Homo sapiens: one gene and its partners. The protein of the gene in region 4 interacts with the protein of the main gene of each other region in a biochemical or structural test. Each region holds a gene or a part of one and is shown on either strand. Other genes may lie near its edges. The genes, in order: UBE2E2, UBE2E1, UBE2E3 and RNF14.

Evidence for each region.
Region 1: the proteins of RNF14 (region 4) and UBE2E2 form a complex in vitro, tested with the Homo sapiens proteins (2 studies listed by BioGRID).
Region 2: the proteins of RNF14 (region 4) and UBE2E1 form a complex in vitro, tested with the Homo sapiens proteins (3 studies listed by BioGRID, with this or other methods).
Region 3: the proteins of RNF14 (region 4) and UBE2E3 form a complex in vitro, tested with the Homo sapiens proteins (2 studies listed by BioGRID).

Annotation. Positions count from the first base shown.
Region 1 is NC_000003.12:23,199,293-23,206,337, reverse strand, and holds the start of UBE2E2 (ubiquitin-conjugating enzyme E2 E2), read right to left. Parts: upstream 3,012-7,045; 5' UTR 2,874-3,011; intron 1-2,873.
Region 2 is NC_000003.12:23,885,951-23,892,162, reverse strand, and holds the end of UBE2E1 (ubiquitin-conjugating enzyme E2 E1), read right to left. Parts: intron 4,597-6,212; coding exon 4,464-4,596; intron 3,052-4,463; coding exon 2,904-3,051; coding exon of another isoform or gene 2,785-2,903; exon of another isoform or gene 1,655-2,784; coding exon 1,557-1,654; 3' UTR 523-1,556; downstream 1-522. UniProt on the Homo sapiens protein: Accepts ubiquitin from the E1 complex and catalyzes its covalent attachment to other proteins. Catalyzes the covalent attachment of ISG15 to other proteins. Mediates the selective degradation of short-lived and abnormal proteins.
Region 3 is NC_000002.12:180,975,711-180,983,607, reverse strand, and holds the start of UBE2E3 (ubiquitin-conjugating enzyme E2 E3), read right to left. Parts: upstream 3,004-7,897; 5' UTR 2,635-3,003; exon of another isoform or gene 2,596-2,634; intron 2,551-2,595; exon of another isoform or gene 2,131-2,550; intron 1,591-2,130; 5' UTR 1,566-1,590; coding exon 1,372-1,565; intron 1-1,371. UniProt on the Homo sapiens protein: Accepts ubiquitin from the E1 complex and catalyzes its covalent attachment to other proteins. In vitro catalyzes 'Lys-11'- and 'Lys-48'-, as well as 'Lys-63'-linked polyubiquitination.
Region 4 is NC_000005.10:141,964,865-141,972,115, reverse strand, and holds the start of RNF14 (E3 ubiquitin-protein ligase RNF14), read right to left. Parts: upstream 3,012-7,251; 5' UTR 2,949-3,011; exon of another isoform or gene 2,336-2,948; intron 1,413-2,335; 5' UTR 1,239-1,412; intron 1-1,238. UniProt on the Homo sapiens protein: E3 ubiquitin-protein ligase that plays a key role in the RNF14-RNF25 translation quality control pathway, a pathway that takes place when a ribosome has stalled during translation, and which promotes ubiquitination and degradation of translation factors on stalled ribosomes.

The DNA of each region.
Region 1 (7,045 bases), on a different chromosome or scaffold from region 4:
ACTCTAAATTCTCATTCTTGGATTTAATATTTTTTTTCACCTTCTTTCAGTTAAAATATATCAGAAGTTTAAAATCTTGTAAGTATGTACATAATGGCATATCAGATAGGGCGGCATGCATGAGAGTGAAAAAGAGAACAATCCTCAGGGAAAGGTGCTCAGATATAGCAAAATGCTGCCAGCAATACCTTAAGAAATGTGAAATGAGTGAGAAATCATTTTATACATTTTAAAACAGGAGCAATCCATTCCATGACAAATATATGGGTACCTCAATGAAATAATATTCTCTATACTGAGGATGCAGCTTCAGCGTAATAAACTATGATTTAATAAACTATGCTGAGAGTTTCAGTTGTGTATAACATTAGTTATAAAGCCACACATTCTTCTCAATATTCTTATTTATGTGCATTTACATACTATCGAATGCCATAGTTATATAATTACTTAAAAAGATTACTCAATGATGTGATCTGAGCCATAATCTGAAACTCAAATTTCTACTGCCGAATATTAGAGGAAGATTAAAATAAAAATTAGTCTCACCAGAGAACTAATAAAAATACTATTAGAAATTCCCCAACAGAGGTGTAATTTCTGGTTTCACATTAAGGAAAAGAATTATTCCCACTTTTGAGTTAAGACATATTTCATCCAAATGTTAACCTACAAATGATAAGTCCATCTGAGGCCATTGATAACCACTATAGGAACTTTTAGAAATAAAGTTTTCACATCTCTTTTTCAAATATCAATAATAAAAGGAATTTCTCCTGGGTTTGTTTTTTGAATGCTTGATTACAGAAAAAGTATAGAAAAAAATTATTGTACCACTCAGGTGCAACGAATTTTTATGAAGAAAAAGTAGTCTATGAATCAATTTAATTAGTCGTAAGTGTAAACTTGATGTCTTGTCTCTCTGAAGTACAAATGAATAAAAATTCCTGAATTAAAATCCTTTAAACATTATCTTCTAAATTAGCATTTTAAAATTAATTCCTAAATAGCTAATCTGATCCGATTATCTCATCTACAGGGAAGATAAACTTAAATCCCAGGGTTATAAACAAACAGCTACTCTCCAATGATACTTTCAAAGATATTGAGAGAGATAAATACGCTTACTTCATAACTCAAAGTAAAATTTAATTTTTAACCATAAAATAAGTAGTCCTTCCTAAAACTATATTAAGAGGCTTACATATTGTTACTTCTTCAACACAAACTGTCTAAGCTTGTATTAGCTATGTACCCTATGTTGTAATTACAGTCCTGGAAATTAGCAACATACAGTGAATGAAACTCACATGTTCCATAAAAATGAAATGATTTGGCTTGAAATATTACTGACTACATAAAGGCAACTATAGTCATTCCATAAATCCAGCCTACTACCCAGGTAAGCCTTATAACAGTATCTACTAGTATAAAACTGCAAAACCAAGTGTTCATTTAAGCTTTTATAACAGGAAAGCGTTTAATTCTGTCATATATGTCTTGCTGTCTTCCTACTCATGTTTCTAAACTTTTCTAAAATGTAAAATAAATATATAGTATATGCACACAGCAATATCCAGCTTTAAATTTAACTGCAAAGACATTTATGCAGAAAATAACAGTGGAACACCTGATTTGGGGGTAAAAGGTGCTGCAGGGGAAAGAGAATGGGGTATGGCATTATATGAAAACACTCTATTTCAGCGTCAGCCCACATACAGAATTCCAAAGAGCCAAGGAGCATCCAAATTGCCGTAGTAAAGGCAAATATTTAGATTCACAAAGTCCAGACTGAATTATCACATATCTAGAAACATACTTTTTAAAGAAATCAGGGATTAAAAACTAAGAAGAGCGTAAAATCCTTTAGAACCGCGAGATACTTTGAGGGTAAACCCTAGCACTTCCTTTCGTACTTTTAAATAAAAATATTTTAGTAGACTCTCAAGAATACACAATACAAAACGATGAATCTTGAAAACATGCAAATGGGTCTAACAGCCACCGAGCACAGGATGATGTCTTTCTAAAGCAGCCTTAATTTCCTTAAGGGAAGATGGATTGGACATTTCTGGTTGGTCGTGGGGGAAAAAAGCCACAAGAAGCCACGCTTTATCTTCATTAGAAATGGTAAAGGGCAAAAAGATCAAAACATTATGAGAGAGATCGGAGAAAAGAGGGGGAGAAGTGGGGTGGGCGGGAAGGGGGAGAGGACAGAGGGAATCCAGTTTCAAACCAGGCCAGTGGGGGCTGCAGAGAAGAGACCAGAGAAAAATGGGCTTCGGTTCCAAACTGTGACAAGCGCCAGGCATCACAAAAGACCAATACAACACACACCCCTCACCAGGACACACACAAATATACCCCACAAGGTCTTCTCCGGGCGGGCCACCGGGGTGCGGCGGCGAAGGAGCCAAACCCGGCACTCGCCAGGAGACACACCATGTGCAGCAATTATGCAATTAGGGAAAATAGCAAAAGATCAAGCCGGGCACTTTCCACCGTGACATTTATCCTGTACTTTTGAAAAGACTTAGTTCCAGGATGCGGCTAGGAGAAGGAAAGCGCTGGGAGGGTTGAGAAGGATGGGGAACTGAGAACGGAAGGGGGTAGAAGGAGGACAGGGAGAGAAGAGGCAGAAGGGGGGGATGGGAAGAAGGGGGAGGGGTAGAAAGGGCGAGAAACGGGGGCAGGAGGCTCGCGGGAGGGGGCGTAGGGAACCGGGCACGGGGAGCGAGGAAGGAGGGAACTAGGGCACGAGCGGTGTAAGCAGAGACCTGCGACGCGGAGGGGAGGTCGGGGGAGTGAGGAGGACGTCAGCGAGAGGGAGGACGCCCGAGGAGGGGAGGCACCGGCGCGGCCCGAGCGAATACCTGAGGGGGGGGTGTCCGTGCAGGTCGCAGGCTCGAGCCGAAGCCCTGGGAGAGAGCTGCCCAGGCGCGAGGGGGAGGGAGACTGGGGAGGCCCCAGGGACGGGATGTCCCCTGCGGACCGTCTAGTCACCGAAAGCCGGACCCACGCACCACGCACCCGACCACGCCTGTCCCCGCCGCGCTCGCGCCCGCCCGGACTCACCCTCAGCGCCGCCGCTGCCGCCGCCCCCGGCCGTTCCAGCTCCGGCTCCTGAGGCTGCTGCCCGCGGCTGTCGCTGTGGCTGCCCCTGAGTCCTGGAAAGTGAAGCCACCACCTCCGGGAGCCGCCGCCGCCCGGCCGTCCGCGCGCGCACCCGCGAGTGCGCGTGCCTGCGCGCCCGCCCGGGAGAGACCGCGAGAGCGCGAGCCCCACGTCGGCCATGCGGCGCCGCGCGCCTCCCTCCTCCCCCCGCCCCTCCTCCTCCGGCGCGCGGCCGCGAGGGGGCGGGGGCGGGAGCGCGCCCGGGCGGGCTGCCCCGCCGGTCGGGAGAGGGGGTGGGGAGGCGGCGAGGAAAAGTAAAGTGACAGCTGGGTCCCGCGCGCAGACTGGGCTCTGACGGGGGTGAGCGAGGGGCGTCCCACGGGGAAGGAACGACAAGGACGGGGAGAAGTGGGGGAAACCGAGGCTGACGGGGTGGCTTGAGGGGAGGGGACGCGAGGACCTTGCCGGGCACGCGCATTAAAGGGAAACGCCGGCTGGGGGTTAGGGGTTACCCCAAGACGGTGCAGGCAGTGGGACGAGGAGGCCTTTTACCCCCATCCACCGCAGCCCTTGACTTCACGCTCGCCTCGAAGCTTTCGCAAAGTAGATACGGGGACTGACCCTGTTGACACACTAACCCAAACTCGCAGACGCGTGGGGCTCGCATGTACCCAAGACAGGAAAACTTCACGTTGGCCTGGAAACTTCTTCCAGGCTAAGCCTGAGTCTTCACCAGACACTGCAGCACGAAGGCCCTTCTGCCTTTTGGCTCGCCCTGGCCCAGAATGCGCACCAGCCGGTAGAGAGGAGCTTCGGGCCGTTTAGCCCTGGGGTATTGAAGAGAGGGGTGGGGGTACAGGGTGCACCACTGTCAGAGTGAGTGGGAAGCTGCCTTCATGCCCAGTTGAAGGATATGGGAACAGTAGCAGTGCTGTAGGTGGCATGAGGGAACATTAGGTTCCGTTGTACTCCTCATCCCAAATAACCGTTTAAAAAAAAAAAAAAAACGTACCTGCTTTGCGAACTTAGCTTCCACGAAATTTCTCCCACTCCAACCTCCAGCCTCACTTACCAACGGAATGCTGGGTCGTTGGCAACGGGGTGTCCAGGGATGCAGCAAAATTAACTTCTATCTTTGTGGAGGAAAGGATTGGAAGATCTTTCACTGCTTAATTGCTGAAATTATGGTTGCTACAGTACTTCATTTGACTGTAGATGTTTTAACTGCTATTTACTAAGTTCAAAATGGGTTTAATACAAATCAGTTACCCTTTTCATTTATTCAAGGAATATTTATTGATACCAGGCACTGTCTAGGTGGTAGATATATGACATTGAATAAAAGAAAAAAATCCTTGTCCTCAGAACTTCCCTATGTCTGAACCTTCTCTGTTGTACACTCAGCATCACATTCGTCAGCAAATTCTGTTGACTCTGTTTTCACAAATATATGGTGAAAATGTCCACTCCGTCTCACTCCCCTCCCCACTGCTAATGTCCTGGTCTAAGGCATCATCTCTCAATAATTATCTCCTACCTGATCTTTCTACCTCCCACTCTCCGCCTCCTCCCTCCCCAACACCTACACACAGCCGACTGTCCTTTAAAACAAAGATTAGATTATGTCTCTCTTCTTCTCAAAAATTCCAGTGGCTTCCCATCATAGAGCAACAGCCAAAGTGCAAAATATGGATACATGGCCTGCATGATGTGCCCACCATTCCCAGCCAGGATTCCCCTGACCTCAAGCTGTACGATTTCACTCCATCCTCGTCTCCTTCCAGCCACACCGGCCTTGCAGTTATGGACACACCAAGCATTCCTCAGCCTCAAGACCTGTGTACTTACTATTTCCTATCTCTAGAACATTCTTTCCTCCCACTCCTCCCCCAGAACTTCCTATCCACATCCTCTGCTTTTTCTCCATGATCACCACCTGACATAATACATTTTTTTACTTATTTATTAGTTTCCCCCTTCTGCTTTCTTTTTCCTCCCTCTCCCAGCCCTCCCACGTAAAAGCACCTTGAGAAAAAGGATTTCGTCGTCTGGGGTTCAGTGCTGTATATATTCAATAGATAATGACCGAGTGAAAGAAATTGGTCTCTTTCAGTTGATGACACAATAGGTATTGTTTCTAATTTCTTCAATAATTAGTACTTACCGTGTTCTTAATTTGTGCTAGGCAGCATGCTAAGCACTTTAGTTATACTAGGTCACAACCACCACACAGGTTGGTTTTATCCAATCAGCCCCACTGTACAGATGAGAATACTGAGGTACGGAGGGATTAAGTCACTCACCTACAGTCACATAGCTAGTGAGGAGCAGAGCTGGGACTCGAAATCAGCAGTTTGGCTCTGGAGTCTGTGAACTTAAGGACACTTTACCATGAGTCTGGTGTTACAGACATAAATATTTATTTGATTTTCTCTATTTCTCTCTTCTGCGGTGCAAACTTGGTCTCCAAGACAAATAGCTCATCTTCCTTATATTTTCTGCTCTGGTCCATCAGTCTGTCGTCATGAACTCACTCCTTTCTTACATTTCTTATTTCTGATCATTAATTTAGAGCCTACGTTTTTTCCCCCTGCAACTGGCAAATTGGAATGTTTTTTGAAGGGTCCTTCTTAAAACGTTGTTACTGCCAACTTCGTGAGTAAGTAGAGCCACAGTTAGTTTTCCAGTTTGACTGGATGGGTGATAGAAAAGACCTCTCTCAGGGGAACTGGGCTGAATTTGAGCAGAAGCATTATACTGGTAGAGCCCTGCTACTTATTTAGGCAACTTCTGTTCTTGTTAGGCACCCAATTATCAGGGGTTATTACATATTTATATTATACCCTTTGAAAGAAACATCATATTAGCTCAGGTTTTCCAAAGAATGGGATAGAAAACAATGATCTGTTGCATACTGTCTGGCTTGAAGGAGGCTGTAGTCACCCCGAATGTTTTGGATACTTAAGGGCAACAGTGGTGTAGGAAAATTGAAACTCCAATAGAACTGCAACCCCATTACCTACCTAGTTCAGTACCAACGCAAAGGTACGACCAGGTGCTTTAAAAAAATGTTTGTTTCATAAATAAATAAATGAAATTCTAGCAGGGAATAGAAGTGTACTGAGGACAAATTCCCCTGACTTCCCCATTTGTTCAGGAACTGCTACCTGGACCACTATGTATGATCGTGTATTTTGTACACTGCAAAGTATCAGGGGGTGCCATTCATGTAAATTAAGATGCAAACATAGAAGTGTGGCTGCTCCTCTCACCCCTAGACGTTGCCTGAGTATGGTAATCAGTCTCTAAGATGTCCCACTGATCCCTGCCTCTTGGTATTCACACCCTTGTGTAATCCCCTCCTACGTCATGCTAGGGTTGGTGTAATGCTGTGAGAAAGGAGGGTATGTCACTTCCAAGATTAGTTTAGGGCTTCCATCTTGGTTGCGCACACACTGATGCTCTCTCTCTCTCTTTGCTGTCACTGACTCTGGGGAAAGCTAGCTGCCATATTGTGAGCAGCCCTGTGGAGAGGCCCATGTGACTAAAAAATAAGACCCGCTAACATCCACATGTGTAAGCTTTAAAGCAGATCCTTCAGCCTTAGCTAAGCCTTCAGATAATGAAGCCCTGATCAACATCTTAACTGCAAACTCTTGAAAGTCCTTGAGCCAGAAACACCCAGCTAAGCCACTCTGGAATCTGGAGATAATGTTTGTTATTTTCAGCCACTAAGTTTTAAGGGTAATTTGTTATGCATCAATAGATGATTACTACACCATGCTCTCTGCTCACTAATGATGAAGTTCCCCCTCAAGTTCTCCATGTATCAAGGAGGTTGCTGTCATGGTAGGTCTTCCAGGGAGAGGAGTCCCACTAACTCCTGAAATGGACTATTGCACCTAACTTCTCAGTAACTGCAAACATAGAG
Region 2 (6,212 bases), on a different chromosome or scaffold from region 4:
CTTAGTGGTTTCACCTGTGAAATAACTATTTTGACTGAAATGTAAAATAAGCTATTCAACAAAGAACATATTAAAACATCAAGTAATTTGTAACATCTTAAATGGAATACTTTTTTCATGAGCTCTAGTGAAGAACTACTACATATAAAAGACGATACTTACAAATCAGCTATTGCTGCTACAGTATAATTCTTCAAAATTTCTCATCATAAATTCATTTTTTGGTAAAAAAAAATTACCAGACACTAACTCACCCCCTTACCCTTTTCCCCCGGTTATTGAATATTAATCTAGCTTCCCACCCATGCATGTTACATAGATGGACAAATGCTTTCATAATGATTTTTAAATAAGTACCTTCCAGTTTGCTTTGTTTCCTACTAATGCAACTTAGTCTATATTAGTACAAACAGTTACCAATTCTTTTTAAATTCTGTAATGAATGTATGTGTATCCAGATAAGTTTCTCTGAAAGAGACATACAGAAACAGAACTGCTGGGTCAGGACATGTACTGCCAAAATGCCCCCTAAGGCAGGGTACCAATTTATCCATGACGGAACCCATTTCTCATGTACTTGCTACTACAGCATCTGCAAGTCAGAAAATGCTTTTAAAAAGATGCAGTAGGGTTCGTCTTTGAAGCCTAAATGGGGTAGATTATTTAACCTTTTCTAGGATACCTCATCTACAGCTGTGTAAAGTACAGATCCTAATATAGGTAACTAACTAATACCTACTAAATATGCATTATTTTTAGCTTGTTTTAGAAGCAGATACCTATCGATTTCAGAAGAATCTGCGAATGGCAACCAAAAGGCAAAAGAAAAGTAAATGAACACAGCAGTGTTTATTAGGTGGTTTTTAATATTGTTTATTAGCACAGTAACAAATGCAGACTTAAGTAGTCCACAACATAGAACCAATCCACTGAGCAACTCCTATTCCACGCCTTACAGTTAGTTAACAGCTTAAGGTATTTCACTACAGGTTTTCACAAGTCCTGATTCAGACCTTTTTTAAACAAAGTAGATTGGCATATAAAATAAAACGCACTACTCATCTCTTATATGGTGTTTTATAGCCACGTGTCCATTTTATATATATGAGATGACAATCTCTAAAAACTCTGTTAAATATCAATGTTCCCTTCCAAGAAGGGAAAACAAATTCCAATTTTGTTTTAAACAAAAAGTATGTAGTCTTAGAGGGACTTTACATAAATGGCCATATGTGTAACCTGTACCAAATTAAGCTGTTTTAAATTTACAGACTACAAGCAACTGAACCCAAATGTCTAAATGTACATTCTTTTCTGTACTACATTTCAGCTAATATTGCAGAACTAATGACAATTTTAAAAGTTGCTATTACCAATTCTGTCTACTGTAGCAAGATACCTTAAGTTACAACAAAATCTTAGGAAATAAGACTGAATAATATCTGTTATAGAAATACCCTACTCTTTACCAACTCCCACCCTCCCTGACCCCTTCAAAATCATAAGCAGCTCTCTTCTGTGACAGACAAATAATGTAAGAATTGTGAAACCCCAATTTATGTAGCGTATCTCTTGGTCCACTGTCTGGCCATTCTGTCATGTTCTGCTCTGTTGGTCATATACTGAGTGGCAATACTTCCCACCAAGGGGTCGGCTGGAAGAAAAGAATGTAGATTACTTTGGAGAAAGGAAAAGAACATTTTAAACTTTAGCGAATAGTGACAGCTTGGGTAGATACGTACGACAAAGTATGTGTGATCAAACCCATCTTCGAAACACCACTCCACCATGCTGGATATTTTTCCATCAAAATTTCAAAAAAACATAACGTTGGGGGAAGAGGGAATGCTTAGGCTTTAGTGTACTGGTCTGTCTTTATCTTAGTTCATTCCATTTTTCTCCCAACAAACAACACTCAATTGGAGTTTCTTTACTCTTATGTGTTAGGCTGAGTTCAGTAGAGACTGGAACGGTCAAGGCTTCAGACTGCAATGAACATCCAGCTGTGTTCATGTGACCCTTAGCTCAATGTCACCAGTTAACGGCATTGTGAATACTGTGAAGTCTTCGGGGCTGTTGCAGTGCAACACTATTAACCTTTACGCTGGTTAAAGAGCCAGGTTGCCAGGCAAAACCTGGACCTCCAATTAAGTATAGTATTTCTCTGAATCTTAGGATCTTTAATAAATTTATATTTGGTTTACCTAGAAAATATATTTGTCTGTGTGTGTGTATATATATACATATGTGTATATATATATATTTTTTGAGACAGGGTCTCGCTTTGCCACCCAGGCTGGAATGCAGTGCAGTGACATGCTCATGGCTCACTGCAGCTTTGACCTTCTGGGTTCAAACAATCCTGACACCTCAGCCACCCTAGTAGCTGTGACTACAGAAAAATATTTTTTAAATGAAATGAAGTCCCAAAAAAGTCACAATTCAATAGTCACTAAGTATTTAACAACTACCATTTTCAAAATTGAGTGCCATCTCAGTGACCAGCTATGGGACACATGCTCACTGAACCCCAGAGGCACAGGTGAGGCTTGCCAGGCAGATGACTCGACATTTAGAAGTGTCTGATTTGTTTTATAAGAACTCTATGGGAAATTAAGCAACAGGAAAAAAAAAGGAGGAAGAATAATTGAAACTAAAAGCCCAAGGCAAACTTACGTCAGTCTTCAGTTTAAAATACCTTGTTGCTAGAATATACTGATTAATGAAGTTGTGTGTCTCAACTAGTAGACTGAACTTGATTAAAACTTTCTTTTGAAAAGCCGATTAGTTTTTGTATTCACAAACTTGTGCAGAAAAATTAGTTTTGTCCTTTGAAAGCTTTTGGAAACAAGTATTTTTCAGGTAAGGAAGAATAAAACAAGGTAAAGAATTATGAACCTTACCAGGATTACAGTCTGTAAGAAGTGAGCAGATAGAAAGGAGGACTTTAGAAATGGTTAGTGCTGGACTCCAATTATCTTTCAATATGTCCAAGCAAATAACACCTTGACTGTTAATATTACAATGATAGATTCTTGTCCGAAATGTAACCTAAAAAAAACAAGTGACAGACAATATTTAAACAGCAAACAAACTTGTTACTAAATATTCAACTGAATGACCCTTAAGAAGGTGACTAAAAGCAGTTTTAATTAAAGCTGTCAAGAAGATAGACAATAAATTTGATTAGAAAGTGTTCATTGATACCATCTCAGGGACTGTGTCAATTTCATTTAAAATGTTATGTCCACTGACGGTAAGTTCAGTACTTCCTAATTTCATCTTTAGCAATTTTAAATCTTTTAAATATTAACATTTCCAAGTTTGAATAGCTAATTGTTTGCTGACCTCTTGTGTTAGCTGGTAGTACTACACTGCCTCAAAGTAAGCTTTAAAATACTGAGAATCATAAATACCTCTTAAAAACTGAAGTGCAACATAATGGGTACATAAAGATAATTAAACAACATACTTAGCAAACAATGACTACACCCAAAAGGCTGAACAAAATTTGAAGAGAAGTCTATTTCTGCTTTTTTCTGACCGTTACATCAGGTCCTATAGACATCCTGTCTACCTACATCACAGAATTTACTATTATATAATCGAGTGTCCATGGATGCAGAGCCAGTAATGGGCAAGGACCACAGCAGAACACAAGTCACATAAGCTGGTGTTATTTGGGTCTCTTAATTTTTATTTGTGAAATATACCAAAACACAAAGTAAAAATTACCTGTAATTTTACCAATTTTTTAAAAAAGTGACTTTCGATTACTTCTTGTTGCTGCAGTTGTACTTTTATCTGGCAGTCTACCTAATCCCCAAGACGGGGTTTTCTTTCTGACTGAATGAGAATCATAGATTGAGTACAGGAGATGGGTGACTTGGGCAATCCTCACCTGTCCTAGAAAGAAAACTGAGGCCTGGAGGTAAAGGAACAAGACCAAAACATGACAGGGAGCACAACAGAATCCAAAGCTTTGGGAAGAGATTCTGATTCTCTAGTTGTTTGGCCCCCTGACCTGCCCTGCCTTTTTTTGGGGTCTTGCTTTGTTGCCCAGACTGGACTCAAACTCTTGGGCTCAAACAATCCTCCCAAGTAGCTGGACTACAGGTGCACACCACTGCACCTGGCTTGACACCATTTTTAACCTCGAGAAAGGTTCAAAAACATTTCTCTATGGGCTGGAAAACAGGGGATTAATTCTAGGTTGCTGACAATATTACTATAAATAGCACAATTTTAAGCACCATCAAAACAAAGCACTTAATCCTAGAATGGTCTCTGCCAGATAAGGCAAAATCAACCTAAAGAAGTGTTTTGTATATGTTAAAATACTCAGATCTATTAGGACATAAGATAAATCTAGTTTCTGTGATTAAAAATTAAATTTAGAAAAACCTCAACAGTTGCTCTCTTGTGGGAATTAGTAAATTTGAGCATACAGGGAGATTTCTTACCTTTGGAGGCTTGAAGGGATATTCTGGTGTAAAAGTGATATCGAGAAAGAATACACCACCCTCATACACGGATCCTGGAGGCCCTAGAATGGTTGATCTCCATTCATAGATGTTATCGCCTTTGGGACCAGCACTGTGAATAATACGTCAACAAATAAGCAGATGGTGGCACTATCCCAATTTTTACAGTGTATTAAAAGAGATGGAAAGATTACCTCTCTCCTCTCTTTTGTTTACTGTGTGGATTCTCTTTACAAAACAAGTACAGAAACGGATGCAGAACTGCAACAAACCCATAGCCATTGGTCAAGCAAACTGGATGATAAAAGAATGTTAAAACCATTCTAAGCCTACCTAGCTACGAATAAGCAGGAAACTTTCCTCAATTCTCAAAACTCTCCTGGACACGTAGGAAAGTGTAAACAATACTTAAAATGGGAAACACATCTCAGCACCTAGAAGCGAAATTAGTGACAAATGCGAGCAGTTTTTGCTCACAGCTACATCACTTATGACCATTTTAAGCACAGAAGTTTCATTTTCTGACCCACTAACTGGCTCTTCCTTGCTCTTCTATCTCCATAATCTCACCTTTAAAAGAATCTAATAGATGGTTTATAATGTAAAAAGTATGTCCATGTTAGGTGGGAGGAGAATGGTAAGTATCCAGTTACAGGTTATTCAATTTTCATTTCAATGTGTATTCTATAATTGGGTTCTCTAAATACTAATACTTGAGACATTCCTCCAACCCTGTTAGCTGTTATCATAAATCACTGTTACATACACTTGGGTACACCATAATTTGGCCACAATACCATTCTAAAGCATTGTGTTGGCTTCTAGAGTGCCACCGCACCCAGCAAAACTACTCTTTTAAATAAATGTACGATGTGAATTGGATTTATTCACTCACTTACTGAATGCCCATGTACTAGGCAGAGGGTTAAATGTCAGGGGTTTTGATGCTGAACAAGACAAACTCCTTCAAGATGCCCTCTGCTAACTGGTTACAAAGTCTGATGCCTTCATTTAAGAGACAGAAGAGATGAAGAGGGAGGGAATAAAAAGCCTACCCATGGGCCTATACTTTCCCCAAACCCATCACAGGTTTTTCTTTTGGTCTGAAATTTGGTGTGAGAGATGCAACAGGTTAGGGGAATGAGCTTATTACAAAGGAAAAGCAGAGGAGAATACAAGTTGGGGAAGAAAACATGACATGGCAAAAAAGGAGGGAGAAAATATGGGCAACCGAATAGCGGGTAATGGGAAGAACAGGGCCCAAACTGGCCAAGAGGCAGAAAGAGCTCGGACACTGTCCACCTCACAGGAATGTTTTCAGAATTAAGTGAGAGAAAGAAGGAAACTGTAGAGCAACACACCCATGGGTATCTCTCATTAAACGGCAGTGATCACCATTATTATTAATTCTTTAATATCTCTTTGTGATGGGTATTACCAAAAACTATTAAAAACTTGTTTTATTTTTTATTTTTGAAACAGAGTCTTGATCTGCTACCCAGGCTGGAATGCAGTGAGTGGCATGATCTCGGGTCACTGTAGCCTTGACTTCTAGGCTCAAGTGATCCTCCCACCTTAGCCACCTGAGTAGCCGAGACTACAGGCATGCACCACCATACCTGGCTAATGTTTTCTATTTAATTTGTGTAGATGGGGGTCTCTCTATGTTGCCCAGGCTGGTCTTGAACTCCTGGGCTCAAGCAATCCTCCTACCTCAGCCTCCCAGAG
Region 3 (7,897 bases), on a different chromosome or scaffold from region 4:
CAGTTCTGACAATATTTTATCTGTCAAAAAAAAAGTTTAAAATTTACAAATATCTTTACTTGTGAAAAACTTTCAAAGACTACTTGACATTCTAATTTAACCATTTCTGTTTTCCCTGATTTTAGGTACAGCACTTAAATTTAATAAACATTGAGAGAAAGAGGAGAAAATACATAGGCCTGAGTTAAGGGGGAGAAAAGCAGTTCTCTGATTTGATTCAAATTTAAGATGATTTCAAAACTTTAGATGTGTCTAATATGTTCCGCATCAACACTATACCAAATTGAGAATTTTAAATTATGTCAAAGACTGCTGCCATTCAAAAATATTATCAAGTTATTAATACTTCATTACTGAGACAATAAGGGTGAAAATCCATAGAAAAATATGAGTATTTATGAATCACCACAGAATGCAATATTTGATCAGTTTTTATATTCTTTTTCCTTTAGTTATCAATAAAAATTAACAAAATGTCAAAATTGGTTAATGCTGTAAACATTATACATTTTATGTATAATTACTAGAGTTTGTGGATATTCCACTACTACTACCACTGATAAGAGTCTCATTGACAGAATCTTTTTTTCTCCATCAGAAAACATCAATCAATAGGAAACAAATGATCTTTCACTTACATCCAATTAAATATGTTTCTCCTGCTGTTGAGTATTAACTTGTCAAGCACATCCACAAGTTTCAGAGTGAAGAGGCCCAAGGACAATGCAAGTTTTCTATCACTAGTGACACCTCAAATTGTAAAGGGCTACTTTTCAGTTTGATTTGCCCTCACAAGCACAGGAAGGGATAATCATAATTTAACCAGGAAAGTTACCTGTGATATACGATTGAAAGTCATGTTTTGTAAAACTGTAAGCAGATTTGCAGCACAATTTTAAATCTGCTTTCAAATATAGCAAAGGCCTGAATTTGCAAATTTTCTAGCAAATATGATCATTTCTGATCATTAAGTTTCATGAAGAGAGGCACTGCTAATCTCTGGAAGTGTCAATTTCATTAAAGAAGATTATGACTCATAAAAGGAACATCCCCAAAGTACCATCTAATTTGGGTTCACCAAATTTTCCTTGCCAACTCCTTAAACAATCTGTCAGAATGTTAGTCTAATCTCTACTCAAGGACACTCTTAACTGAAGTTACCGAAGTACAGAATTAAGTTTGCTTAAAAGTATAATTCTAGTAATGTTGCTTACATACCACCTAAAGAATGACAACTCATTCAAGTACAATTAAACTGATAATGAAGTAAATATTTCTGAACTACTGCTATTGAGGTAAAACCAACAAAAGCGTCCAACCACCTGGAAGACAACCTGACAAAGTGTGCTGGATCCTTCTTTTACACATTACCTTTTAGCACTAGTGGATAACTTAGCAGTGGTTTTGCTAGAGAGTTTGGTGTTTTTCTTCTGCTGGGTGGCAGAAGGTTTTCTTTCCTCTTGTTCTTCAGGCTCTGGAGCGGCTGGGTCTCGCTGGTCCGCATCTGAACTGCCACTGCTGGTGCTGGGGCTCTCATCATCGGACCTTTGCCTATCACTGGACATCTTGGTGAAGTTATCTCTTGGAAAACTTTTAAAGAGAACAGGGGAGGAGGAGGAGAAAATGTTAAATCTAGGAAATAAACCAACAGCATTTTCTTCTAGTCATCTAAAATCGTCTTGTAATGAAAAAGCTTCAAAAGTGTTCACACTTATTTCATCGTACAACAGGGGTACGTACAAGGGAGGTGATGTGTCACACAACGCCAGCGTTAAGGGATTTGCCGAACTCAAGTTAGAAAACCCACTCACATTTTTTTCCGTCTCTTGGACAATCTATCAATTGTCTACTTTCTCAGAAGGCATGAAACAGATTTGCCAAGGAACTTAGGCAACAAGCATTAATAACATATGACACACTGTAAATAACAGATCTCGCTGAAAAATGTTTAAAAGTCACTAATAACGTCTAAATATTTACACACTGACATTGGTCAAAGCTACCAAATTCCCTTTCCGAGAGGAAAACACACCCTGTTAATCGCCCATATGCTTATTTAAGGTGGCGATTCCTCCTCAGTGCACGTAAAGCCTTTAAACACAACACTTGGAAATTTAAAAATCAACTAACGAGCTGCTCTAGCTGTTTCCACGGCCAGCAGCGAAGATTCATCCGGCCAAGACCGAGCTGCCACCCTGGGAAAAGCAGAATTCAAACTGCACCTTCTGCAAAGCTCCCAATGCCACCAAGGTTCCTCGCTCAATTTTTATATCACGGACCGACATTTTGTCCAAAATAACGAAAAAAATAAGAAACCCAGAGAAAAAACAAACAAATAAACAAAGCCCCAAGAAGTGCAACAAATTTCCGCGCCCGCGGAGGCGAGCCACGGCCGGCGGCGGCGGCCACGCAGCTCCGCGGCCCTTTGTGGGGAGGGCCGCGCGGGGGCCGCGGGTAGCGCTCGCCGCGCCGGGCGCCAAGTGATGCGAGCAGCCCAGCCGGCCCCGCCGCGGCTCGCGGACACCGGCGACGCGGGCGCCCGGCGCGAACAAAGCTGCCCGCCCCCGCCCCCTCCCCCACCGCCGCCGCCGCCCCGGCCGCCCCCCACGCGGCCCCCCGGCCCCGCCGCCTTACCTCGGCCGCCCGCCCGGCCCGCTCGCGCGCCGCTACGGTGTGGGGGAGGGAGAGAGAAAAAAACCCTTCCTTAAGGAAATGGAGGCAGCTGTGGGGGGGGGAAGGGGGGGGAGGGAAAAAAAGAAGCCGAGGAGGCTCTGGCCGGGGAGTGTGGAACATTGAAAGTCGGAGGGGGTTGTGCAGTGCCGGGCTCCGGCCGGAGGGTGGCGCCGCCCAGCGCCTTCGGAAAAAAGCGGGGGTGGGAGCTCGGCTGGGCGAGGGCGCGAGCTCCCGGCGAGGCGGAGGGGACGCGGGAGACCCCCGCGCGCTGTAGCCTCCCGCCGCCGCCGCCCGGCTCGGCTCCTCCCGGCCGCGCAGTCAGCAAGTTCCGAGGCGAGCGCGGGGGGGAGGGGCGGGCGCGGCGGCGACGCGCGTGCTCGCTGCTTGCCTGGCGGAGGGGCGCGCGCCGCCGACGCCCGGCGGGCGCGAGCTGTTCCCGCGCGCTCCCGTGCGCGCTCTCCACACCTCCCCTCACCCTGGGGGTGCACGCGTCCGCCCGCGCGCGGCCAGGACAAAGAGCGCGGCGGGGACCCGGCGGGCTGGCCCCTGCCGCCCTTGGCCGCGGAGCCTGTGCCAGAGAAGGCGGGGGCGCGGGCACCGTATCGCGGGGCCGCTGTGCCGCGGGGTGGCTTCCGGCCTGGGCCCGCCTCCGGGGCGAGGCTGCCCATTGGGCTACCCGCGTCCCCAGGGCTGGTTCCATCCCATCCGCCTGCGCGGGGGCCGTCGTGGCTCCCGGGGCCCCAGTACCTGGGCAAGGGCCCTGGGCGCGTGGTTGGGAGTCCCCCGCCGCCCCGGGAGACGGGAGACTAATGGGTGTTGTTGACGAGGCCAGGCACGCAGGCGGAGAAGAGCTGCCACTTGCCCCTCGCGTAAGCTGGAGGAAGGGACAAGTTGGGGTCCTGGGAATTGAAGAGGGTAGAATGTATTTGGAGATTAGGGGAACAACCTCTATTTCTTTTTGGCTCATAGCTTGCAACTGTCGCTGCCAAAGGGAAGTGTCCTTCGGATTATTTGAAACCTTAAAAATCCAAAACAGTGTTTAAAATGTCCCGCTCAACATTCTTAAAAGTGAAGGAGAAGAGTTTGGGGTTGGGGGGTGGCGATGAGAGCTAAAACATGACACTTTTCTGCGGGACTCTTCTGTCTTGCACATGAGGAGCCAGTTCTGGAAAGAAAAGTTCTGAGTGATGTTGAGTCAGAATGTCCACCCAGAAAAGCTTTAGGTGGAGATAGTGACAGTTTTGTTTGTTCTACCATTCTTTTTGCAGTCTCCAGGTGGACTCTGCGGTTTTTACCCCACGGCACAAAGTAGCCAGAATACAAAAACTTCCTGTTTGCCACCCAGGCCTTCTCCAGCTACTGAGAACTTGTTCCGGTGATGGAGCCTCAAAGGAATTTGTGGATTCCTCTCCCACAAGTGTCCAGGGGCAGGGGTGCTGTGAGAATGTGCAGTTCACAAAGGGAGTGAGAATGGCAGTCAAAAGATGTATAGAGTTAAGGGAAAGAAGAAAAGACTGAGTGAGCCAACGTATTTGCTTACTATTTCTCCTAATAGAAAACTTTTGGTAAAGGCTTGATAGCAACTCTAAAGAGTAAGTTACATTTCCATAATTTTCCAAAGACACAGTCATTCAGTTAACTTTATTGAGGGCTATATGTTGCTAGGTGCTGGACATACACTCATTCAATTGCTGTGTGACTAAAGCCAGGTCTCTACTCTGTGCTAAGAGCTCCTAGTCCAGAAGGGGAACAGTTCATTAAAGTTCGCTAGGTTCATAAGTAGTAAGGATATTCCACTCAGAATGAACAGATAGAATATCTCATGCCTCAAAAAAGATCATGGTCTGTGTGTGGACAAGCATTTTGATTTGGCTGGGTCAAAGAGTGCTTGTGGGAAAAGCTTGTTAGTGAAAATAAAAGCAGAATTTTCCCCCAGCTTTACACGATGTGATGTTACAGCAAAAGCCAGCCAATTTGGAGTTGAAGCTTTGCTTTGTTTGGAATGGGGAGACAGAAAAGGAAAGCTGTACGTTAAACATGGGTTCTTTTAGGAAATTTAAGAACAGAAATAGCCTGAAGGCCCAAAGGCCAATTGCTGATAGGATTTAGTGGGGTAAGGAGCTTAGGGGAGAAAGATATTTAGTTGTTTGGTAACATCTTCTACAGAAGAAATAGTATTGGGTTGAAAAGCCAGGGAAGTGTATTCTAATCCTCATTCTACGAAGTTCATATGACCTCAGGCAAGTTAAGTTATTTCAATTACTTTTATGTAAAAGGAGATTGTATCAAAGGTTCTAAGTCCTCTCCTGCTCAAAAATTCCATGATTCCGTGATTCTTTGGCGAACTTGAAGTCATGGAGTTTAACTTAACATTCACCCAACAGAATATTTAGGATCTACTAACTGCTTGGGAAACTGGAGTGAAACATGGGTCATGCTCTTAACCAAGCTCAATTGTGCAGTGGGGCAGCCAGAAACGTAGCCTGCAGAATGAGAAGTGCTGTATTAAAGAAGTAAAGAGAATGAGAAAAGAGCATTACTAATCATCAATTAACTAATAATGGAACTATTAATTCAGGTTGGAATTGTGGGGCATGAGGTAAAGGTCAAAGAAGGAAACATTAGATTGGTCCTGGAGAGAGCACTAGGGCCAGTGATAATGTAGATAATATAGATAATGCTCTTGGCAAAATACCTGGAATTTGGGTGTTCAACAAATAATACCTATTGTTAAAGTCACCGTAAAGATAATGAATGGCTCCATAAGGTTAGGGGCAGTAGTGCCCTGCCCCTACAATGTGAGGTGCCTGGCTGCCTTCATTCAGCTGACTCAAGGGGTTGCTCAAATGATTTCAGCTCACAGCTCCTCTCCCAGGTGACTTGGCATCACCTCCACCAGAAGTAACTTGTAAGGTGTAAATTGTTTCTAATGTTTAGTTCTTCCTTGTGTGACAACCTGTTTTGTAATTATTTTTTCTCTCTTGTTTTTGCTATGTCAATCCTTGAAATTAAGGATCATGTTTCACAGGCACTCTTGGAAGCATACAAATTTGACCTAATGCAATTATTTCATAAAATATAAAAAGGGCCCTTTTCCCATAAGGTCCCTCAGAATAGTTCCACAAGCAGACACCAGCTACCACAAAGAAGATTGTTTCCTCTCAGTCTCTTTTATTTTCTCTTGTTGGTGTGGGGTCCTGCCAGCCTCTCACAACCCTGAGAAGGGCAGTGGTAAGAGGGAAGATGCCGAATCCAATTGCAGTATTACAATGATTATCTCTTATCCCCTTATCCACCAAATGTTGTGACAAAAAGAGGCCTGCCTAAGGGCAAATAAGGCAGACCCCAGAATCCTTTGCACCTCCCTAGTTTGGGAGATGCTTTTTCCTGCGCCTTTCAATGAGTCTCAGTGTTATCTGTGTACATAACTGTGAGTATGTATAACTAAGAATTTCACAGGATCTATCACTGAGTTACCTAAGAAGTTTCTGAATTGAATGATTATGTAAGCTGGGGTATAGACCTCTACTTATCCACCATGACCAGCAGCATCCCTCACATGTAAAAAATGTAGAATAAATATGAATTTATTTTGTTGATTTTAAGGTACTTTGTTTCCTTCCAGTCAATAACTTTTCTAAGAGTCCCTTCATTTTTACTGGCTGTTTCTGATGCTTTCCAGTTACTTGTATCCTCAGTTCTCTGGCTAAGAAATTTTCTTTCTCTACCCATAAAGACTGGATTGGTTTACTAGGAAGGTATTTCTTGGCTCAGCCTTAGTTTACACAGCCTTGTTTGTCATTGTTAGTCCCAGTGTCTTTGGACCCCCAGAATCCAATGTGCCGCTTGACATCTGGGTGCACTTCCACTGCATCCTGAGGGGAAAACCTGCTGTGTCCTACACCAAGGGCTGGGCCCTGGAGTTGGAAAGGTGCATAAGCCTTGGTTTGACGTCAGATAACTCAGTGATTATTTTCTGTATTTCTCTTTTGAGATAACTCTCAGGGAAGGTATATACCAAAAAAGGCTCATGTCATGGTAAGGAGCCTGTACACATGAAACAAAACCGTGAGCACCTTAGTATGTCAAAAGGCAAAAATTTTTAAAGAAATATTTAACATTATAACAAAAATGTAGTCTTGCTAGTTATCCAGAAAGGAAAGTTGAAATGAAATATCTATCAAAATAACAAAAACAATTTTTAGTTATTATAATAATTCCTGGCAAATTGTTTTTTAAAAAATCCCTTTGTCCATTTCTAGTAGGAATGAAAATTGGTACATGTTTCGAAAAGGAATTTGGAAATTTTTTTCAGGAGCCTTAAATGTGGCCATACCCTTTGACCAGATTTCTCCATTTCAAAAGAAATGTACTTCAAGGAAACATTCTAAAAGTGAGAAAAATGATACTGAAAAACTGGAAATGTCCAACAATATGCAAATGATTACACATACTGATTCACCCACATAATTAAATTTGCCATTATTAAAATAACAGTTGTGAAAAGCAAGCTAAAATACAAAAACAGATTATTATAAAATACACTTAAGGTAGAAGTTTGTCTATTTTAGTTACTGGGAAATCAGAGCCTGCCTCAATACCTCTCAAGGTACCGAGCACAAAGTAAATCATCTATAAATATTTGTTGAATGAATATGCATCATATTTTTACAATAAGCAAAACAAAAATGTCTGAAAACAAAAGGTTGACCAGTACCTAGATTTTAGAGTGACTATGAATATGAACAACTTTATTTTCTTTTTACTATATTCAGTGTTTTTCTAGTTTAATGAGCAGGTACTACTTTTATGAGGGGAAAAAAGATGTGAATAAATGCAGGGGTGTAGATTTGGCAAAAATAAATGCTGTTTTGTTTTAACAGTTTTTTAAAATAAGTTCTTACATAAATTAAAAGAAATGATGAAAGTTCAAGCAAACTGTTTTAGAATTTGTCAGGACTTTAAATTTGATGTAAGAAAAAATAGGGAAACCAATTTTAAATACTGAAAAAAGTCACGTGAAGAGACTACACATTAAATAAAACAATAAGCTCTGGCTCAAGGACAGATAGATCACTGAAAAAAAGTAACCAAGAATTAGATCATTTAATTATGTAACAGATGAGATTTTACCTAAAACATACAGAAAAGAAGTATTATGCAATAAATGACTGAGATAACTAGTTACCAATATGGAAAAGGTCACTTAAAATCATGCCTTATT
Region 4 (7,251 bases):
CTGAGCAAGCAGCAAAATAATATTAAATTTTTGAAATAATAGATTTTGTCAAATCCAAGCAGTCACCAATTTAAAGATTCACCATTATGACTCAAGAATATTTAAAAGATAATAATTTTAAGAAAGATTTACCATTATTTTAGGTAATACTAAGAATTTAGCTACAAGGCCCAGGCACAGTGGCTCAAGTCTTTAATCCCAGCACTTTGGGAGACCAAGGCAGGCAGATCACTTGAGGCCAAGAGTTCAAGACTAGCCTGGCCAACACAGCAAAACCCCATCTCTACTAAAAATAAAAAAATTAGCCGGGCATTGTGGTACACGCATGTAATCCCAGCTACTCGGTGGCTGAGGCACGAGACTAGAGAATCACTAGAATCCAGGAGGCAGAGGTTGCAGTGAGCTGAGATTGCACCACTGCATTCCAGCCTGGGTGACAGAGACAGACTCTGTCTCCAAAAAAAAAAAAAAAAAAAAAAGGAAAGAAAGAAAGAAGAAAGAAAGGAAAGAAAGAAAGAAAGAAAGAAAGAAAGAAAGAAAGAAAGAAAGAAAAAGAAATTAGCTACAATTAAAGTATGAACTGGCTGGATATGGTGGCTCATGCCCGTAATCCCAGCACTTTGGGAGGCCAAGGCAGGAGGATCACTTGAGGCCAGCAGTTTGAGATCAGCCTTGGCAACATAGCAAGATCCTGTCTCTATAAAAAATTAGCCAGGTGTGGTGGTGTGTGCCTGTAGTCCCAGCTACTCAGGAGACTGTGGCAGGAGGATCGCTTGAGCCTTGGATGCTGAGGCTGCAGTGAGCCGTGTTTGCACCACTGCACTCCAGCCTGGGGGACAGAGCAAGACCTTGTCTCAAAAAATAAAGTATGAATCAATGTTTTTTAAAATAGCATCAACTGAAAGATACAGCAATTTCAGATAATTTAAATGTGAAAAAAATATGCAATGAGAATTTACAAAAATCATTTTAATAAAACAAAACTACCAGTCAATTAAAATATTGAACTACAATTGCATTTGCAAATATCCTCCCTCACAACTAAAATATTTTTAATTAAAATGTACATAAGTAAAAAGTTAGGATTTTTTACATTTTAAAAGGTCATACTATGAAATTAAAAATGATTTCATTTTCAAAAAACACTTTTTTTCTAGGAGATGTTAGTTCATGGCTCTGCTTAAGCTGCATCCCTATCTAAGACACAATTACATGTTCTACTTGAGGTCAGTTAGTACCTGTTAATAACAATCAGAAGAAAAGGATATTAACACCGCAGTCTGTATTTCAGCTCAGAGTGGAGTTCATGCAAATCCCATTTATTCTCTAACTGGTGGAGCTGAGACTGCTGAAGCTGGGTAAGAGGCCAAGATGTGGAACTCATACTACATATATTATGAAAATCCTGCCATCTGCAGAAAAGAAATACAAAAGATGGTGTTAGGACCCTCTCCAAATTAAAATTCTGAATTTCCATGATCACTGCTTAAGTCAAACATATCCTAACATATAGCCAATCCTAATCTACAAGTGCATGTTACTCTCCTAGGGCAGGCTAACTGAGCCATGTGGTTAAAGGAGTATTTGCATGTCCCCAGCAATGACTGAGGACTTTTTATCTGTCTGCCCTCAGCTATGGGAGGAGCTAAGGAGGAACACCAAGGTCATATGAAAGTACAGGACACCATGCCCCATAACAAACAATCTCTTCAGTTTGTTTTTTGTTTTGTTTTTTTCTCCTTTCCTCTTCTGCTTCTTGTATTCCTTCATTTGCCACTCCCCTCCAGTTTTTCCTCTCTTGTTCATGAATTAAGCCTGCCAGTGGCACTCAAGGTTAATTTTGGTAACAGAAAAATACTTAAACAAAACAAGAGTACACAAACACAAACTTTTAAGTTTTATTCTAAATGCTTTAGAGCTAGGCTTCTTCACTGGGGTGAGGGGAAAAGGGAGTGTGGTCTATAGATGGGCTACGGAGAATCCTATCAACACCCTAAAATTATATGCAAAAATACTATATACAAAACCATAATTAAAAACCAGATTCTCGGATGTGTAACTCCCAAATGAGATAAGAATGAGATTCAGAATCAATTTACATTAATTGAGCACCTACTATGTACTGTATTAGGTCCTTTCACATTGTCTTATTTTACTAGGTGGGAGTATATGGTGCTAATTGAATTAAGCTTTTTGTTTCTTCCTGTTAAAACATTTGCAAATGGGATGAGAGATTCATTCATGCAGTTTATGGTTTTAGGTTAGTGTTCTCCATCTGACTGCACATTAGAATCTTCTGAGGAGCTGTTTTTTAAAATCTCAATACCCAGGCCACACCCTAGAACAATTAATTCAGGCCTCAGTAGTTTTCCAAGTTCTCCAGGTGATTCCAATATGCAGCCAGGGCTAAGAACTTCTACTCCAAGCAGTTTCAACAGTTCCTCATGACCTACCCTACAAGATTTCAGCTTGTGAAGCTGTCACTTGGAATCCAGTACCTCAATTCAGGTTGCTAACCCCCATTTCCTTCTCACTCTATCCATTTGGTCTTCGGGTGTCCTAGTCTGGGTTCAGCTCGCCACTAGGCGTGCGGCGTCGTTTGGGCGACTGCCCCAAAACAGGGGCAGGCCCAACGCTAGCTATCCGCCCCAACGCTGGGATCAGAGGGCGCAATGCGGATGTGTGAGCTGCTGGCCAGCCTGGGGCGTCCCGAAGGAGCAGGGCCCACACCTTCCCCTTCCTCCTCAGCGTCCCGAAGGGAGTCCCGGCCAGCCGAGCTGCGGACGCCCGGTCCCGGATTTGAGGGACTGAGGCCCAGTGTACAGTCCCAGCCCGGTCCCCTTCTCTGCCTCGCGCGCCCAGAGAGCTATCCCCACCGTACCTTCCGGCCGCCCGGCAGTGCCGAACCCCAAAGTTCCGCCCTCCGCCCTTGCCTGGGGCCCACTCACCGCCGCCAGCCGACCAGGCCTAGAGACGCCCTGCTCAACCGGCGCGCCGCCTCTTCCGTTCTCGGGAGCTGTCAGCTGAGCCAGGCGGATCCCGCTGGCGCGACCGCCGGCATAGGGAGGACTCTGCGCAGCCGCCGTGGTCGCCCCTGCCTCTCGGGCGCCTCCCGCAGGCCCAAGGCGGCGCTGCCGGCGCGACCACCGTCACCCCCACTTACTGCGAGCCCTGTGCTCACAGGAGGCTCTTTTCAGTAGTTCTGATGGGGCCCGAGAATTCGAATTTTTACCAATCTCTAGAGGGGATCATGAGGCAGTGGTCTACCTAGGGCAGAGACTCTCACAACAATCCCAGACCTGCTTCTCCAAGTGGACTAAGCAAGCCTACTTCCTCCCGTTTACCTTCTCAGAAATGCTGCCGGTCTTTCTGGCACTCCACTGTGGAAGCACGCATTCATCGCTCATGTTATAACTGTAACACCGACCGCATTTATCGAGTAGTTAGGATGCTTCAAGCAGTGTGATAAATGCTCTACGTAAATTTTCTATCTTCACTGTAATCTTATGATTTAGCTACCATTTGTTATTCTCACTTTACAAATAAGGAAATTGAGACTTAGGTGCAAGAACTTACCAAGGGTCACATGATTATCGTCAGGCTAAGCAGGAATTAAAATTATACACTTCCTTCCTCACACCATATGCAAAAATTAACTAAATATGGATCAACGACCTAAATGTAAGAACTAAAACTATAAAACCCTTAGAAGGCCGGGTGCGGTGGCTCACGCCTGTAATCCTAGCACTTTGGGAAGCCGAGGCGGGTGGATCACGAGGTCAGGAGATCGAGACCAGCCTGACCAACATGGTGAAACCCCGTCTCTACTAAAAATACAAAAAATAAGCCGGGCATGGTGGCGGGCACCTGTAGTCCCAGCTACTAGGGAGGCTGAGGCAGGAGAATCATTTGAACCCAGGAGACAGAGGTTACAGTGAGTCACTGCACTCCAGCCTAGGTAACAGCGAGACTCCGTCTCAAAAAAAAAAAAAAAAAAGTCAAACACAAAAAGCCATATATTGTTTTTAATTTATATGAAATGTCCAGAATAGGCAAATCCATAGAGACAAAAAGTAGTTTAGTGGTTGCCAGAAACTAAGGCAGGAGGGAATGGGAAGTGACTGCTAATAGATACCGCTAATAGATATGGTGTTTCTTGGGTGATGAAAATATTGTGGAATTAGAGAGCAGTGATAGTTGTATAACTTTGTGAGTGTACTAGAAACCACTGGATTGTATACTTTTGAAGAGTTAATTTTATTGCATGTGAATTATGTCTTAATTAAAAAATTTTTTTAGGTACAAAGCACCGTTCTCAGCGCTTAAGTGGAATACAGAAATGTTGGCTCCTTCTCCTGGGACCCATCAAACTAATGTGCTCCTCACAATCTAATAAGCTCCTGTGTCCGCTTTTTCATATATTTCTTCCTCCAAAAGAGTAACTTGCAGAGCTAAGACTCTAACCCAAGCCTACAGGATTCTAAAGCTTTTACCACCATTGCCTCCCGGGCAGGATTAGATTCATGGGCCAGCAACCCGTGCAGTCACATAGGGCCCTGCACTTAGAAGGGCCCCAGATTTAGAAGTGGCCTGCTCTTAAGAATGATACAATGGACTTTGGGGACTTAGGGGGAAGGATGAGAGGGGGACGAAGGATAAAAGACTACAAATAGGGTGCAGTGTATACTACTCGAGTGATGAGTGCACCAAAATCTCACAAATCACCATTAAAGAACTTACTCATGTAATCAAATACCACCTGTACCCCAATAACTTATGGAAAAATTAAAATAAAAAAGAAGTGCCCTGCTCTTGATTTGATGCTGTGCTCTCACCCTCTTGAAGTTCTTAATAATTTCTGAATGAGAGGCTGCATTTTTATTTTGCCCTGGGCTTTGTAAATTATGTAGTTGGTCTTATACCCAGGAGAGAGAAAAAAACCAAGTGAGTAAATCAGGGCACCCAAGGGATTACCTGGCTGCCACAGAAAGAACCTTGAAATAGAAATAATCACTTCTAATTTTCTGTACTATAAATCTTGATTGTCACAAAACAGAAACCAAAATACCCTTCTAATAGATACCAAAACCAGAAACATATCTCGGAAAAATGCAAAGGACGGAAGAAGAATCTCCAAAGCCATTCATTAATATAATTATTCATGTTTAGCCAAAGGAATTAGACCAAGAGCAAAACACACAGCAACCCTACCTCAGAGTGCTCAGAGAGGGGAGACCAGAGACCTCTTCGTGAGGAAAAAAGTGAGGAAGCCCATGCACCAACCAGCTTGGGAAATCCTCACAAAGTCAGAGCAGAAGGTGAATTGTGACATCATGTCAGAGGTCACAGGATAGAGAGAATAGAAAGAGAATTTCAAAGCAGTGTTAATAATTTACTGAATGTTTAAAGTGAACTAAAGATTTAGAGTCAATTTTGAGGACAAGATTGGGTAAAGACAGCCTTCTAATAAGTTTTGTTTTTGACTCTAGGAAAATAACAGACTTTTGTGTCTTTGGTCTCATGTGCCTGGTTAGTCTTTTAAACTGCAGTCTCCCCGTGTGCCTAGCCCTCCACTGTGCTAAATATTTCACGTACATTCTCTCATTTAAATGCCCAGGACCCTATGACTTAGGTAATTTTATGTGCCCACTTGACAGAAGAGAAAACTGAGGCACTAAGATTTGTTTTTTTAATAAGGCCTTTTATATTTACACAATTACTATTTATGACATTTTTATTTATTTTTAATATAAAAAGATGTAATAAAAGACAGCAATGTCATAAAGTTGAAGTCAGGTGTATTATACTTTGGGGTTTTGTTTTGTTTTTGAGACCGAGTCTCACTCTGTCACCCAGGCTAGAGTGCAGTGGCACAATCTCAGCTCACGGCAACCTCTGCCTCCCGGTAGAGGGTTCAAGCGATTCTCGTGCCTCAGCCTCCTGAGTAGCTGGGATTCCAGGTGCACACCACCACATCTGGCTAATTTTTGTATTTTTAGTAGGGATGGGGTTTCACCATGTTGCCCAGGCTGGTCTTGAACTCCTGGGCTCAAGTGATCCACCCGCTTTGGCTTCCCAAAGTGCCGCGACTACAGATGTGAGCCACGGCGCCTGGGCCACTTTTTTTTTTTTTTTTTAACTTTTAAGTTCATGGGTACATGTGCAGGTTTGTTATGTAGGTAAACTCGTGTCACGGGGGTTTGTTGTACAGATTATTTCGTCACCCAGTGACGAAATATTAAGTCTAGTACTTTTTATTCTTCCTGATCCTCTCCCTCCTCTCATCCTCTCATCCTCTACCCTGTAGTAGGTAGGCCCCAGTGTGTGTTGTTCCCCACTTTGTGACCATGTGTTCTCATCATTTAGCTTCCACTTACAAGTGAGAATATGTGGTATTTGGTTTTCTGTTCCTGTGCTAGTTTGCTAAAGATGATGGAGGCACTAAGGTTTGGCCAGTATCACACAGTGGTGGAGCCAGGGTTAGAGCCGATTCCTCATCAGTCTGACTCTCTCCAGGAGCCTGTCAGAGAATAAGGGTTTTTTGTAACAAATTCACAGAGAGTAAAATAGTTCTGGCCTTAAGAACTAAACGGGAAGGCCCTGGGGAAGTTAGGATTCGAGTTTATGACTTAAGGATAGGTGAGAATGAGAACACAGACAGAGAAAGAGACCCAACTCCCACCCCCTGTCCCCAGGGACACCGGATGATGACGGAGCCTAGGGAGAGGAGAGGTTACAGTGTACCACCTAGACCAGAGGTCGGGACCCAGGCCACGGAGTGGAGAGTAGAAGTGAGTCACAAACTATGGCTTGTCACTATAGGGGTTAGCAGACCTGACGGTGCCTGCATTTGTTCCCATCCATCACTGGCATCTGGTAGCTGTCCCGAAACTTTGCTGAACTCATCCCACCATCCCAGGGGGGACTGCCTCCTTTTCCATGGCCACCACTCGCAAGCACTCCTGCAACAAGCCCTTGAACACAGAGGGGCAGCAGTGTGGAGAGGAAAACCCTGCCCAACTTTTGGATAAAACTGAACCTTAATGAGCCCTACCCCAGTACAGAAGTGTCCCTGACTTCTTGCTGGTCTCTTGTCATTGTGTATTTGCTCATCATGTAGATCTTAAAAGTCTATTATCATGTGGGCCTCTGAAACATTGTTTTTTTTTAAAAAAAATTAGAGGTTTCAGGCCAGGCGTGGTGGCTCATGCCTGTTATCCCAGCCCTTTGGGAGGCCGAGGCAGGTGGACC